2 separate regions of the Homo sapiens genome follow, and region 2 is linked to region 1. A link means that fine-mapping ties the variant in region 1 to the expression of a gene that starts in the linked region. Tissue or cell type: breast. Region 1 holds a variant in brackets; the other region holds the start of a gene. All regions are shown on one strand. Distances are from middle to middle.

Region 1 (8,060 bases):
TCCACCCACACTACACATCAGGCACCAAATGTGTGGGTTTTCCACACCAACAATTCGCCAGTCCTCTGCAGACACCAGCCAGGCATCCTGTAATTCAGTTCAGTCTGACCCTGCCGCGGTTATCAGGGACCCCAGCGTTAGGGGCTCAGTCACCCCCCACTTCAGATGCTAATTGCAAGTAGTGGGTCCCTGGGGTACCCACACTTCTGTCCATCTTGGCTACACATTGGGAGTTCCTACGACCCCTTCAGGTTTGATGATTTGCGGTAGTGGCTCACAGAACTCAGGAAGGCACTTGGTTTGCATTGCCAGTTTACTATAAAGGATGCCACAGCGGGCACAGGCAGGCAGCTGGGTGAGGAGGGGCACGGGCGAGGCCCAGAGGGTCCTAAGCATAGGAGCCTTTGTCCCCAGGGAGTTGTGTGGCTGGCCTTACAGCACGGGGATGAGTTCACCAAACTGAAAGCTTTCCAGAGCCCCTAGTTCCAGGATTTCCATGGAGGCCTCATCATGGAGACATGATCAGTTATGAACTCAGCCTCCAGCCCCTCTGCCCTTTTTGGAGGGTGGGGGTGGGGCCGAAAGGTCCAGGCTTCTCATCGTGGCTTGGTCTTTATGATGACCAGCCCCCTCCCAAGGCCATCCAGGAGCCCACCAAGAGGTGCCTCATTAGAACAGAAGACTCTCCTGTCACCTGGGAAGTCCAAGGGATTTAGGAGCTCTGTGTCAGGCACCCCTATCGCCCCTGTCACTCAGGAAATTACCAGCGTTCTGAGAGCTCTGTGTCAGGAGCCAGGAGCAGGGGCCAAGTGTGTTCTTCTCATTCTATCGGTGCCACAGCCAGGGCCGCGGTTGTGCAGCCGTGTGGATCAGCTCAGCCCGTCCTCACCCAGCCGTGTGAGGAGGCCGAGGCCACACAGGTGGATGGCCTTCCCTTAGAGTTACTTTCCAGAGCCTGGGTGCTTAGCCGCTATGCCCCATGTTTAATATTCTTGTGTTCCAATGTAACAACTTTAAAATTACACAGGATAACACTCTTGATAACATTTTAATAAATGGGTGTTTTTCTTTTCAAGAAATTTTGACTTGCACTTCAGATTTCCTTTTTAATATTTTCGTTGAGCGGAACCTTGCTATTCCATAAGAGGATGTGTCCAGTGTTGTGGAAGATTTCATGTTTTAAATCCTTTGTACAGAAATCCTGCTCCCAAGTCACAGATAGGCTGACGGGTCAGAGGGCAAGACGTGACCCAGGGCCGAGAGGGTGAGTGACCAGGAAAATCGGATTCATCAGTTCACTTGTTTGTTTCAGAAACGTGCACAAAGACCTGCTGCATGAGGCCCTCGTCTTCAGTTTCTGTTTCATGCCCAGCATTAAACCAAGTATCTCATTTTGCCAATTTGACTTCTGTAGGGGCCATGGCACCTGCAAGGTGTTTCTCAGCAAGATTGAGGACCGTGTTTCAGGGCGTGGGGCATTGGGCTTTGTCCACATGGGCTGGCCTGAAGCCCAGCCGGCTACTGCCACAGCGGGCTTCTCCCAGGCTGCTCTCGGTCGGCCGTGCGGACCTCGCCAAGCATCAGGAACTCCCGGGGAAGAAGCTGCTCTCTGAGAAAAAGCTGGTGAGACTCCTGGAGTTAGAGCAGCTTGCCTGTCTCCTCCTCAGAAGGCACAGGGTGTGGTTTCGGGTCCTCCTCTGGGTCTCATCTCTGTTGATGTTAGTTGATGATCTTAGTGATGGGGCACGTGGAGCTTCTTGAAAATGACAGGGTGAAACGCAGGCCTGCGTGCTAAATCCCACGCTCAGCAAATCCCAGCAGGCTGGGAGAGGCGCTGCGTGCTTGGAAAGCCGTGATACAGGCTGCTCATTTTCCCATGAGCCTGTGTATTTTACATGTATGTTACATATATCCTTTCATATGTGTGGCTATTTCTTAATTTAAAACAAATGCGGAGGCTGGGCACGGTGGCTCATGCCTGTTATCCCAACACTTTGGGAGGCTAAGGCAGGCGGATCACTTGAGGTCAGGAGTTCGAGACCAGCCTGGCCAACATGGTGAAACCCTGTCTCTACTAAAAAAAAAAAAAAAACCTTTTTAAATTAATAAATAAATAAAAATAAAACAAGTAGGGGGGAATATACCTTCCGTTTTATGGTTCTTTAAGCCTTATAAGTTTTTCTTGTTCTATTTACCAAAACCTCCTATTTAAAGCATGAATTGTCTCTAATAAATTCAAGAAAATGCACGTTTATGACTCCCTTCGTTTCCTGCTGAATGGAGGGGCTCCAGATAAGCATTACTGGGACAAACAGCACTTCCAGTGGAAAAGCCGCTTTGGTGGGATGTGTGCTCAAATAGCTGAAGCGTTAGCACAGGCTTGTCTCCTCCCCAGGAGAGAAAGTGAGTCGAGGTTTTGTCCTCCACGAAGTGCTCACCAGTGGGGCTTTCCTCCCTGTCTGGTGGATTTTGCTTGCGTTGGCGCATGACAGCATTACACATTGAAATTTGGAAATAACAGTTCGTGGTTTTCCCACATGGTGGTGCCAAAGAATCTTAGAATGTTTGTGTTTTAAATTTTTAAATTTTTTTTTGTGTTTAAATTTTTGTGTTTAAAAATTTTAAATGTTTTAAAATTTTCTTTTAAAAGAAAAAAAAACTGCATTTGAGGAGTATTGGATCGGAGTGCAGAGGCAGCAGCCCTGGGTGGCTGTCAGGGGCAGGGCACGTCTGTCTGTGCACGTGGGCAGAAGCCAGGTGTCCTCCCCAGCGTGTGGTGAGGTTGCAGCACCCTGGGCTGCGGGAGCTGACCCTCCTGTGGTAGGAGCTGTTGTGTGTTGAACAGTAACCTGGTTGGTTCTCTCTCTTCATCCAGATTGCACCTACCTTAGTGACCTACAGAACAGCTTTCCTAGCCGGGCACAGTGGCTCACGCCTGTAGTCCCAGCACTTTGGGAGGCCGAGGCGGGTGGATCACGAGGTCAGGAGATCGAGACCATCCTGGCCAACACGGTGAAACCCCGTCTCTACTAAAAATACAAAAAACTAGCCGGGCGCAGTGGCGGGTGCCTGTAGTCCCAGCTACTTAGGAGGCTGAGGCAGGAGAATGGCATGAACCTGGGAGGCAGAGCTTGCAGTGAGCCGAGATCCCACCGTTGCACTCCAGCCTGGGCGACAGAGCGAGACTCTGCCTCAAAAAAAACCACAAAAAACAAAACAGCTTTCCCTCCAGCGAGGGGCTCTGTTTGCCTCACCACATTTTTTAAATGAGCCCTGTTTTCATCAGGCCCCAGAAAATACTCTTTCTTCAGAGTCGAAAGCCTGGTAATTGTCCAGGAACGATTCTAACTTCCTATTTCTCTATCGCATCCTGGGAAACTAGAACTTTCTAAGAGTAAAGATCTATGATTTCAGGAATGGTTTTTTTGAATGGAAAGACACATTATATAAGGAATATTTCCTAAACAAGATGTGGGTTTTTTAGCTTAGAAATGCTGATTTTTGTTGTTGGTTTTTAAATCAGTCTCACCCAGAGTAAGAAATGCTGAATTTTTGAAGTGTAGGTCCACACAGAATACTTACATCTGCATTGTGGATTTACCTCAGTCTACAAATGCAACTGACTTGTGGAGACTGTTTTTTATCTTCGGAATTTAGAAGTGATTAGCAATATTAGTGTCATTAACCTCTAATTTTAATAGGCTGTTATAGATAGAAGATGTACATCTCAAATGGATGCATGGTGTCTTGAAAGGACCTTGGAGTGTTGAGATGACGTGGGATATTTGTGTTCTCTGTAGAAAAGGTACTTTGTGGACTATCGGAGAGTGCTTGTCTGTGGAGGAAACGGAGGCGCTGGGGCAAGCTGCTTCC[A/G]CAGTGAGCCCCGCAAGGAGTTTGGAGGCCCTGATGGAGGGGACGGAGGCAACGGTGGACACGTCATTCTGAGAGGCAGGTGCCCTGGGGCAGTGCAGCGGGGTTGAGGAGGGGCCCCGAGACTGCATGTGCATTTGAACTAAAAACCTGATGTATGGGCAGGCACAGTGGCTTATGCCTGTGATCCCAGCACTTGGAGAGGCTGAGGCAGGAGGATCACTTGAGCCCATAAGTTCAAGACCAGCCTGGACAATATAGCAAGACCATGTCTTTTTTGTTTGTTTGTTTTTTTGTTTTTTTTTTTTTGCCTCAAGGTTTGTGGATCTACAAAAAATTTTTGAAAAAATTAGCCAGACATGGTAGCGTGCACCTGTGGTCCCAGCTACTCAGGAGGATTGCTGGATCCCAGAAGTTCAAGGCTGCAGTGAATCGTGATCACACCACTGCATATTCCAGCATGGGTGACAGAGCAATACCCTATCTCTAAAAAAAAAAAAAGTAAAATTTTTAAAACCCAGCTAGGCGCAGTGGCTCATGCCTGTAATCCCAGAACTTTGGGAGACCGAGGCGGGTGGATCGCTTGAGGTCCGGAGTTCGAGACCAGCCTGGCCAACGTGGTGAAATCCTGTCTCTTAAAAAATAATAATAATAACCAGATGTGGTGGCACACACTGATAGTCCCAGCTACTTGGGGCTGAAGCAGGAGGATGGCTTGAGCCCAGGAGGTCGAGGTTGCAGTGAGCTCCGATTGTGCTGCTGCACTCCAGCCTGGCCAACAGAGGAAGACCCTATCTCAAAAAAACAAAACAAAACAAACAAACAAAAAAAACCCTGATGTATGGATATCATTTTTATAAATTATATGGATATTCAGCCGGGCGTGGTGGCTCACACCTGTAATCCCAGCACTTTGGGAGACCGAGGCGGGTGGATCGCTTAAGGTCAGGAGTTCGAGACCAGCCTGGCCAACATGGTGAAACCCCGTCTCTACAAAAAATACAAAAAAAATTAGCTGGGCGTGGTGGTGGGCACTTGTAATCCCAGCTACTAGGGAGGCTGAGGCAGGAGAATTGCTTGAATCCAGGAGGCAGAGGTTGCGGTGAGCTGAGATCGTGCCATTGCACTCTAGCCTCGGCAACAAGAGTGAAACTCCGTCTCAAAAAAATAAAAACATAAAACATAAAAAAAAAATTATATGGATATTCATAGTTAAGTAGCACACCCAAAAAAGCAACTTTGAGGCCAGGCGCAGTGGCTCATGCCTATAATTCCAGCACTTTGGGAGGCCAAGGCGAGTGGATCACCTGAGGTCAGGAGTTCAAGACCAGCCTGGCCAATATGGAGAAACCCCATCTCTACTAAAAATAGAAAAATTAGCCAGGCGTGGTGGCAGATGCCTGTAATCCCAGCTATTTGGGAGGCTGAGGCACGAGAATTGCTTGAGCCCAGGACACAGATGTTGCAGTGAGCCAAGATCATGCCACTGCACTCCTGCCTGGCTGACAGAGCGAGACTCTGTCTAAAAAAAAAAAGAAAAAGCAACTTTGAACATGTTTTGTTTTGTTTGTTTAATTTCAGGAGCACAGAGAGTTTCCTGTCAGGGAAGCTGACATGTCGGTCGCGTGAAAGCACGAGGCCTGTGTGGTGGGTTCGGTGGGTGCCGCTGGCTGCTGGTTATATTCACACTCAGCATAGACGCATAGCGAGCTGGGAGTGAAGCCTTCACAACAAAAGCATAGAATACAGCTACTGTAAAAAATAAGAAATTTAAAAATTTTCAGAAATGATAGCACTTTTTGAAGGAAAATAAGGATTTCATTTTTAAAAAATCACTTTGCTGGTTTTGTAACTTCTGCTGCACCCTCACTCCATGCTTCCATACCTATTTTTAAGGTTCTTAAACTGGACCCAGACACATCAGCAATAGGCCATGGTTGTCGTAACACAAAGGGACTGAGATTCTTGTTCTTGCTTTAGTTGACCAGCAAGTCAAGTCCCTGTCGTCGGTCCTGTCGCGGTACCAGGGTTTCAGTGGAGAAGATGGAGGGAGTAAAAACTGCTTCGGGCGCAGTGGCGCCGTCCTCTACATCCGGGTGAGCCGAGACTGCCGGACCTGGCCCTGTCCCCGTTGTTCTGGATCATCCAGCTCCTGGGGGCCACCGTGTGACCCACGGGGCCCCTGTGGCTTGATGCCCACAGCTAGGAAACAGCACAATGGAAACGGAGGCTGGCAGACAGCGGGAAAGCAGCCCCACCCCTCAAAGCAAACCCAGACGGGCATTTGTACCAGGGTCTCACACCATGTGCATGTCTAGTGAAAAAGTCATGAAACGATTCTCTTTTAAAAAGAGGGAGCCCACGGCACGGACGCTTCCTCCGTCTCTGACCCCATGAGCCGACCTCTGACTGAGGGAGGCCACTGGCACCCAGCGGGCCTGCGTCTCCTTCGCGAGCTGAATTCACTCGTCTCTTAGATGTTTTTTCTGGTGCTTCAGTTCACACTAACGTTTTAGAAACACTATTTGAAAAAGCCCTTTGTGCAGTCAGAAGGGTGTGTACGCAGCCCCGTGAAAGCCCTGGAGCACTGGGACCTTTTCCTTGTGCTCCGGAGCTGTTGGCAGAGGTGAGTGGGGCGGGCAGCTGCCCGGGGCACAGTCCGCTCTTGTCTTCTTTCCTTAGCGCTTGCTTCAGGAATGGGTTAAGGCCTCCTTTCCTCACTGCTGGTAGAGCTCAGCTGATGAGTGCCTGCTGTTCCCCAGGTCCCCGTGGGCACGCTGGTGAAGGAGGGAGGCAGAGTTGTGGCCGACCTGTCTTGCGTGGGAGATGAGTACATTGCCGCGCTGGGCGGGGCAGGAGGGAAAGGCAACCGCTTCTTCCTGGCCAACAACAACCGTGCCCCTGTGACCTGTACCCCTGGACAGCCAGGACAGCAGCGAGTTCTCCACCTGGAGCTCAAGACGGTGGCCCACGCCGGAATGGTAGGTGTCCCCACTGCCAACAGCATCTGCACACACTCAGCTCTAGAAAATCCACTTTTCTCAATGGGGATTTGCCAGTGGCCTGGAAGAGAACAGCTTTGCGACTCACCTTTTTCCCATCAGTACACTGCTGACTTGGTCGTGAGCATGAGCCCTTGTGACTCCCCCAGCCCTGAAATCCTCCCTCCAATCCCAGTTAGTTACAGACTCTGCGCTAACAAAGGTGCTGCCGCGGGCCGTGCCACCGTCTTCCCTCTTTCCCCCAGGTGGGATTCCCCAACGCCGGGAAGTCCTCACTGCTCCGGGCCATTTCAAACGCCAGACCCGCCGTGGCTTCCTACCCGTTCACCACCCTGAAGCCCCACGTCGGGATCGTCCACTACGAAGGCCACCTACAAATAGCAGGTAGAACTTCCAGAATTCTCCCAAAGGTTAGATTTAAATGATGTAATTCAGAAAAGTAATGATGTAACTCTTAAATTTAGCTTTCTGTTTAAAATGTAGCATTGTTGGCCAGGCGTGGTGGCTCACACCTGTAACCCCAGCACTTTGGGAGGCCGAGGCAGGCGGATCACGAGGTCAGGAGATCGACACCATCCTGGCTAACATGGTGAAACCCCGTCTCTACTAAAAATACAAAAAAATTAGCTGGGTGTGGTGGCGGGCACCTGTAGTCCCAGCTACTTGGGAGGCTGAGGATGGAGAATGGCATGAACCCAGAAGGCAAAGCTTGCAGTGAGCCGAGATCATGCCACTGCACTCCAGCCTGGGCGACAGAGCGAAACTCCATCTCAAAAAAAAAAAAAAAAAAGTAGCATTGTTTTTCCTAATGTAAACAACTTTTTTTTTTTTTTTTTTTTGAGACGGAGTCTCACTCTGTCACCCTGGCTGGAGTGCAGTGGTGCGATCTCAGCTCACTGCAACCTCCACCTCCCATATTTAAGTGATTCTCCTGCCTCAGCCTCCCAAGTAGCTGGGATTACAGGCGTGCGCCACCACGCCCAGTTAATTTTTTTGTATTTTTAGTAGAGACGGGGTTTCACCATGTTGGCCAGGCTGGTCTCGAACTCCTGATCTCAAGTGATCTGCCCCCCGCCCCACCTTGGTCTCCCAAAGTGTTGGGATTACAGGCGTGAGCTACTGCACCTGGCCCTAATTTAAACAATTTTCATCAGCCTGTTCTCTATGAAAATCAGGTTCCCACCCCAT
Region 2 (8,060 bases), 52 kb before region 1:
GCCACAGATGCAGTTAGCTCTAGAAAGTCCAGCCTTTCTCTAGATTGTAACTGATTGATACAGAAAAATAACAGTGGAGGTCAAATTGCGCAGCAGCCAGAAGTGTTTTCATCCATTTAGCCATTTGTTTCACCTGCTATGGCAGAGAGAGGCCACCAAAGAAACTAGCCAACTTAAAAGTCCAAATCCAATTCTTTTAAATGATTTTCATTTACTCAGTTTATATGGCTCACAATAGCCCACACACCCAAGTTAATCTCCAAAGCCCTATTCTTCGCTGAGACTCTAGAGAGTAAGACAGCGCTCCCCACCGACTCATACCTGCAAAGGCCATGCAGACGTTGTCATCCAAAGCACAGATCTTCCGCACTGTTCTTTCATCCTGCAGTTTGGCCACTGACTTCTTCTCCACACCAAGAACAACAATGTCTCTTCCTCGAACACCAACCTTTAATTAAGATCCACAAACCACGTAAGAAAGTGATATGAGTGCTGGGTGCAGTGGCTCATGCCTGTTAATTCCAGCACTTTGGGAGGCTGAGGTGGGTGGATGACTTAAATTCAAGAGTTCAAGACCAGCCGGACAACATGGGAAAACCCTGTCTCTACAAAAAGTACAAAAATTAGCCAGGTGTGGTGGCTGAAGCCTGTAGTCCCAGCTACTGTGGGGGCTGGTGGGAGGATCGCTAGAGCCTGGAAGGTGGAGGCTGCAGTGAGCCATGACGGCTGGGAGACAGAGACAGCAAGACCCTGTCCCCTCACCCCACCCTATCCTCCCAAAAAAGTGATACATGGTTCTACTGCCAGGCAGCGAGCAGTAGGAGCAGATCTGAACCTGGGTCCTGGGGGGTACGTACTCCGGGTAGCAGCTCCCACTGGAAGGTGCGTTCACCCACACCCCTTTCTCCTCTACTTGTCTGTCACTGTGGCTGGCACCACATCCTGCAAACCCAGGGGTATTCATCTACTGCTGGTAGAGCTAGCCCAGGCGTGCTCACCTAGGTGCCCAACCTGGGCCTTTCAAATACTGAGATGTAGTTTTAGTTACAACATAGCTAGTAAGTAACCATTATATAATCGGCATGTGTTTCCTTTCAACCCAATGAATCAGTCCCATGCAAAGCCTGGAAGCCTGAGACTTTCACTCAAGTCTGGTGTTCTGAAGGCAGTGTTTCTGTAGTTGTGAAATTATATTGAGCCACAATGCACTGTTTCCTGCACTGTGACATACTCATGTGACAGCCATGAGAAGGGGCCTGATTTGCCGTCAGTGGACAAGGTGTCAAGTGTTATCCCAAACTGTTTATGGCTGATGCTGGAGAAGGATATGGCTGTTATTAAAAGCATGAACAATCACTGACAGTCAACCCGAGTCAAGCCAGAAACAAAGGGAACCATCATTGGGATAAACAGCGCCTCCTGGTTTAGAGCAGGGCTTCTCCAGCTCAGCACTGTGAGCACCTGGGCAGGGGGATCTCCCTGTGCCTGCCGCCCTGAGCACGGGTGGGATATTGAGCAGCGTCCCTGGCCTCTACCCTCCAAATGCCAAGAGCACCTCTGCAAGGTCTTACCACTGGAAAAGTCTCCACACACTGCCAGTGGCTCCGTGTGGGCCCAAAACCATCCCTGGCTGAGAAGTATTGATCTGAAGTGTTTGGGTTTTCTGGGAGCTTTCTCAGGTACTGACTCACTTGACCTTCGACTGACTCGAGGCCCAGAGAAGCTATATGGGTTCGTTAAAGCCAGCGGCGGCCAGCTGGCGGGGGTGGCAGTATTGGGGTGGGTACAGGGGTCAGCCGACTCCTAGTCCTCTTTAAGCTGAGTTAGATCACCTGATGAATACTGGGCCTTCATTTCAAAACAAAGATTCAGAAAATGAAAACAAATCAAAATTTACAGAACCGTGTGTGCTGCTTTCTCTGCCTGCTCAAACCTCTGAATACCAGATGATAAAAGAATAACGATCTCACAGACTGACCAATTAAACTGACACGTCTTGATGGTACGAATTTAAGTTTCAAACAATGTCACTAAGGTCAATGTACACGAGCCCTCGTCAAAACGAAACGGCCGCGTCCAAACCAGTCCTGACCCGGGCGGCTGCAGCCCGGCCCCGGGAAGGCTCCTCCCGGCAGAGTGCGGAGACCTGGGAGGCGCCCGCCACCGGCCAGGCCAGCGAGCCGCTTTGTTCTCGAAGCCCACCTGGGCCTAGAGAATAAGTGTTGCCCCGGAGCGGGTGGGGGTCCCCATAAGGGGGGTTTGAGTAGTTCGCTCCCCAGCCACCCGGCTGCGTGAACAGCCCCCCAGCGAGCGCACGGCCTACCCCCCGCGCTCCGCGGCCCAGAGCGGCCCTCGCCCGGCCTCTGCTCGCCGGGGCGGCGGCGCGACCCACGCGCCCGGCCGGGGCCAGGGGTGCTCAAGATGGCGTCGTCACGGCCCCCGTGCCCGGGGCCCCACGCGAGGCCGGGCCCCAAGCGAGGCGCTGAGTGGGGAGAACGAGCGCTCGCGGCTCACGCCAAACGCCGCCTCTGCAGGCACTCGTGGAGACCGGCAGCGGGGCCCGCGCTCAGCTACAGCCCTGACCGCCCGCGCCGCTGCCCCGCGCACGCCCGCGGGCGCCCACAGCGCCGCGCCCGGCCCCGGCCCTCTCTGGGCTCCCCAGCCCCACTTCCGCCCGCGTCCCCGGCCCCGCGCAGGCCCCGCCGCCTCACCGCGGTCGAGCCCTTCTTGACGGCCTCCTGCGCGTACTCCACTTGGAAGAGGTGGCCGTCGGGCGAGAAGACGGTGATGGCGCGGTCGTAGCTCATGCCGGCGGGCGGCGGCCGGGCTCCTTCCGCCGCGACTCTCAAAAGCGCACACTCACGGCCCGCGCGCACCCGCGACTCCCGGCGCCACTACGCCCGCGCCCCACCCTCGGCGCCGTGTCCTGCGCTGCCGGCGACGGGCGGCGTCAGGCGGCGACGGGCAGCGTCAGGCGGCGTCGGGCGGACGTGATGGCGCGCGCCGGGGCGGGGTCAGGCCGAACCACCGGTGGCCGGGGGTGGGAGGCGGTGCTCCGGCGAGGGCCGGGCGCTGGGTGCGAGGGGGTCGCCGGGGGCCACCGTTCGGCACTGGGCCGCAGACCGTTCTGCAGGGCGGAGCGGCGGCGCCGCGGGCCCGGAGGCGCGGCGACGGCGACGGGGCGGACGAGCCCACGACGCGGCGCCCCCCGCGCTCCCGCCCCCTTCCCCCCCTCCGCGACTGCGGATAATGAGCGCCTCGGGCCGCCCAGCGCAGCCGGAGTATCCACCTCGATGACCACGGGCTGAGCCCCGCGCCGCCACCATGTCCGTGGCCTTCGCGTCTGCCCGGCCAAGAGGCAAAGGGGAGGTTACGCAGCAAACCATCCAGAAGGTGGGCCGGGCCGGAGCGGCGGCGCTGGGCGGCGGGTCTGCGGGCGGGCGCGCGCGGGGACGGGGCGCGGGCAGCTGGCGGGCGCGGGGCGCGAACAAAGCCGGGGCGCAGCCGGGCGGCCGCGAGCCCCGACGGCGGCCCCGTGCCCTTCCCCGCGTCCCACGCCTGCGCGCCGGCGGGCACCCGGCCGTGTGGGGGGCGGTCCCCGGAGAGCCTGCGCCAACTTTGTTGGGGCGCGCGGGTCCCTCGGGCCGGGGCACTGGGCGGTGGGGGCCGGGCGGACGCTGGAGGCTGCCGGCCCCCGAGCGCGCTGTCCCCCGAGTCCGCGGCGCGCGCTGGGAACTGTCCTGGGCTATGCCGGGCGCACGGGGACCCCTCGGGGCCGGAGCCGCGGCGAGGGCTTGTCGCGCTCCGCAGCCAGCTTCGGTGGCGACGGCGGGCGGTACTCGTTTTCTGCGCTCATTTTGGTTAGTGGTGAGGGGCCCGGGTCGGCCTCCGGGCGCACTTGCGACCGCGGGGACTGTGGCCGGGGCTGCCCCTCTTGCTCCTGGAGCGAGGCGCGAACGATGGAGGCACGGAAGGACGCGTCCCGATCCCCATTTGCGGGGCATCGTTACGCAGCCCGGCCCCGTAGGGAGCGCACCGCCCCCTCCGTATCCTCGCGGCTACGCCGGGTTTCAGCGTGACACCCTCGCCAGCCGCCTCGCCTAACAAACTTGACGGATTTGCTCCACAACCTTTCTTCTAGCTCCGTAAGTTCGGCCTTGTGGTTTTCAAGAGACAGCGTTTATGTGGGTTTGGGACACCGTTATCCAAAGCCCTAAGTTTTGAAATTGAGACTTTGTATTTTCTGCTGTTTTTTCTGTAGAAGACAGATTCGGAAGAAAATCAGCATTAGCCATACCCGTTTCAGTTGTCACAACATCTGTTGGAATGACATTGGTTTTTTTTCCTAAACTCTGACTCCGTCTTCACCCTGGTGGGATTGCAGGGATAAACAGTGGTATTCCTAGGTTCCCAGGAGCCGCTTGTCTCCCTAAGGGGGTTCACCTTGACCTTGACTGAGGCTGTTATTCCTTGATGACGTGCCAGTCTCCTGTGGAAGTTGTCCTAAATCTATCGCCTATTTTGAGACTACCTTTGCTGTTGCTAGTTTTAGAAATTTGATGGTCTTAACAAATGAGAACCTTGGCCAACTCTGAACAGGAGAGATTGAGAATAGCAGAAATACAGATTTACAAGTGTGGCATTTTAATTTACTTAGTAAACACTTATGTGGCGCTTACCGTATCCCAGACACTGTTCTAGGGGTTTTATAAATCTTGATTCATCCAATTCTTCATAGAAGCTACTGGCATCCCGTTTAATAGCTAAAGAGGCTGCGGCCTAGGGAGGCCGTGCCTTGCTGGTAAGTGGACACTGAGGCCTAGGGGGGCTAAATGCCTTGCTGGTAAGTGGCACAGCCAGGTGTCGATCCCATACGGTGGCTCCAGGGTCTGCTCTGTTGGTGCCCCTTGATCTGGGAACATTTGGCCAGGCGGAGGTCAAGCTCTAGGCTCAGAGGCAAATGTTGGAACCCAGAGCATCTCCTGGCACTCTGGTTTTTTGGAGCTTAACAGTCATTGTTCCTGAAGCTACCTTTGGCTGCAACGTTTATCCCATTATTTGCACTTCGCACACAGTTCCATTGAAGCTCCCCAAATTCTCCAGGTAAAAGTGTGTATTGAGGTGCTGCCCCGAACATCAGATCAGAAAGGAAGAAATGCACCTGTGGACCGTGGGTCCCTGGGCAGAAACTCAGCCTGCTGACCATTGGAAATAGGCCTTCAGTTTAGGCTGCTGACTTGGCTTGGTAGGGCCAGCAGTCTGCGTATTGGGCTTGGTGTTTTGACGGTGAATATATGTACCCAGGGATCTTTTACTGGGAGGTGTGAGAAGGCTGAGAAAGGTGTGAGAGGTGTATGTTCTATGCCTCAGACGTGTGCTGTGTCCACAGTGTGTGCTGGTAGTGTCATGCCGAGAGCTTTAAGAGAAGCCAGGGACCCCTCTGAAGCCTGCGTGGTAGTGAAGGAGAAGGAAGTCTACAACTTGTCCTTACAGCATTCTGCGTGGTAGCGAAGGAGAAAGAGGTCTACAACTTGTCCTTACAGCATTCTGCGTGGTAGTGAAGGAGAAGGAGGTCTACAACTTGTCCTTACAGCATTCTGCTTGGTAGTGAAGGAGAAAGAGGTCTACACCTTGTCCTTACAGCATTCTGTGTGGGTGGAGATCTTCCAGGCCAACTTCTACTCAACCTTCAAAGCCTCACTCACGTGTTCCGCGTCTCATGCTCCGTCGGCAGTCATGTGGCCCTTGTAGCACTTGCTTGAGCTCCTGAGTTTGGCATGTGACTGATTATTCTTTGCTGATCCCCAGCCTCTCATAGTGTCTGAGCACAGTTAGTGCTGAGCACGTGCTGGATCATCTGTGACGCTGGTCCCATCAGTGGAAGCGTTTTGAGATAAGCAGATGCGTTCGTGTCCTGTGACTTCCTTGACACATTCCCACAACCCAGGTGGCTTCAAACAACAGAAATCTATTCCCTCACAGTTCTGGAGACCAGAAGTCCCAAGTCCAGGGGTCAGTTACCTGCTCTTCTCCTGGCTTCTGATGACTGCGGGCAGCCCTTGGTGTTCTCTGGCTTGTAGGTGCATCCAGCGTGTCTCTGCTTTGATCATTTTTTTTTTTTTTTTTTTTTGAGATGGAGTTTCGCTCTTGTTGCCCAGGCTAGAGTGCAGTGGCGCGATCTCGGGCTCACAACCTCCGCGCCCCCGCCCACGTTCAAGGTTCAAGCGATTCTCCTGCCTCAGCCTCCTGAGTAGCTGGGATTATAGGCGCGTGCCACCACGCCCGGCTAATTTTGTATTTTTAGTAGAGACGGAGTTTCTCTGTGTTGGCCAGGCTGGTCTTGAACTCCCGACCCCAAGTGATCTGCCCCCTCCCCCCCTTAGCCTCCCAAAGTGCTGGGATTACAGGCATGAGCCACCATGCCTGGCCTCAATTTCCCACTTTTTATAAGGACTCTAGTCACTGGTTTTAGGGCCTACCTTAATCCAGCATGACCCCGTCTTTATTTCATTTTCAAATACCTCATTTCCAGTACCTCCCATGCGCAGGCACCAGGGGTCTGGGTACAGTTTAGCCCACGAGAGTGCGTTTGTGGTGAGGGCTATCCCAGAGAAAGAGAACCATGGGGCAGGGGCAGGGAGTCACAGAGGGTCCCGAGCCTGGCCTGCATGGAGCAGGTATTGGGGGACCTAAAGTGGAAGGGCAGGGGGTGCTGGGCTGATGTGGGGAGGGTAGCTGGTGGTGACCAGGCAGCAGTGTGTGGGTGAGACAGTCAGAACTGCTCTGTGGCAAGCACCACAGAGGACATGACTGTGCTGGGGAACCCTGCGGTGGGGCTGGGCCATGTCCCCACGGTGGCCCTGGGCCTGGCTGGGTGTTCTCTAGCCACCAGCTGGGGACTGTAGTGTTCTGTTGTCCAGTGCGTGCTCCTTACGCTGCTGTTGGGGCTGGGCCTGCAGTGGTCACCTCGGACCATGTGGCCAGGCTTGAAGGGGACCCCTGAGTTGCCTCTTTGCTGCTTGGCATGCAGTAATTGCTCAATAAATGTGTTACTGTTTCTGTTTGTATTGGTTTTCTCATTGGTTTCCTTGGCCGGATAATAGCAGTGGTGTCTGCCTGTCTGCTGGGTGTCTGGATCCCCAGCACCTGTTGCGGGGCAGGGTTGGGGAAAGGCTCTGAGGGAATGGGATGGAGCTGAGAGGAGGTGGGCCCCTGGGGCCGCCTGCTGGGTGGGTTTGGTGTGGGAAGACAAGACCTTCGTGGGGTGGGTTAGTGCCGTGCCCAGGGTCCGAGAGCCAGGGAGTTGTTGAAGCTGGACCAGCCCTACCCCATGTCCTTGGTACCCAGGTGCGGGGGTGGGGCATGGGCAAGGGGCGCACTTCTGGGTGGGGATGGGCTGCGGAGGATGGGGTGCACACCCAGTAGGCAGTGGGCACCCTGTGTGCTCCCTCAGAAGTGGAACTTGCTGTCTGAAGGAACGCAAGCTAATTTGGCTAGGAGTGTTTGTAAGGTTAAAGCTGTCCAGTGACTGAATGGCTTGGGGATGCCGAGCCTCCCTTGCATGTGGCTGATTGACAGCGTTCCTCCTGCGATCAGAGGCTCCCCCCACCCGAGAAGGGGAGCATGGGGGCCTGTCTTTACATCCGCAGGGATAGGGGGGTTGGGTCCCCTCATTCCGGAGCCTGGGCTCAGCCCCGGGGAGGGACCCCGCAGCCACCGGCCTTGCTCGGCCTCCTTGCTGTCTTAGGTCAGGTGAGGGAGGCTCGGCCTCCTTGCTGTCTTAGGTCAGGTGAGGGAGGCTTGGCCTCCTTGCTGTCTTAGGTGAGGGAGGCTTGGCCTCCTTGCTCTCTTCGGTCAGGTGAGGGAGGCTCGGCCTCCTTGCTGTCTTAGGTCAGGTGAGGGAGGCTCGGCCTCCTTGCTGTCTTAGGTCAGGTGAGGGAGGCTTGGCCTCCTTGCTGTCTTAGGTGAGGGAGGCTTGGCCTCCTTGCTCTCTTCGGTCAGGTGAGGGAGGCTCGGCCTCCTTGCTGTCTTCGGTCAGGTGAGGGAGGCTCGGCCTCCTT

Which allele goes with the higher level. Positions count from the first base shown, and alleles are read on the strand shown. Sizes are in standard deviations (SD) of each study's normalised expression.
For the expression in breast of the gene that starts at base 3,273 in region 2, allele A in region 1 goes with a lower level than allele G (moderate effect, 0.66 SD a copy in GTEx).

The links. PIP is the estimated chance that this variant, and not a neighbour inherited with it, causes the effect.
Region 2: SS18L1 starts here. The variant in region 1 is fine-mapped to the expression of SS18L1 in breast (GTEx, PIP 0.97).

Annotation. Positions count from the first base shown.
Region 1 is chr20:62,192,002-62,200,061 of GRCh38, forward strand. It overlaps MTG2 (mitochondrial ribosome associated GTPase 2), which reads left to right. Exons shown (of 7, transcript NM_015666.4): 2 at 1,415-1,623; 3 at 3,801-3,948; 4 at 5,851-5,966; 5 at 6,633-6,851; 6 at 7,118-7,256. The coding sequence starts at 1,420. Among named protein-coding and RNA genes, the nearest start is that of MTG2, 13 kb to the left of the region's middle. The variant A/G (reference allele first, on the strand shown) is at 3,874.
Region 2 is chr20:62,140,497-62,148,556 of GRCh38, forward strand. SS18L1 (SS18L1 subunit of BAF chromatin remodeling complex) reads left to right here and starts at 3,273. Exons shown (of 11, transcript NM_198935.3): 1 at 3,273-3,393. The coding sequence starts at 3,325. PSMA7 (proteasome 20S subunit alpha 7) reads right to left here and starts at 2,898. Exons shown (of 7, transcript NM_002792.4): 1 at 2,712-2,898; 2 at 322-448. The coding sequence starts at 2,807. RefSeq lists silencers at 2,100-2,739, 2,780-3,489, 3,610-3,669, 3,700-3,749.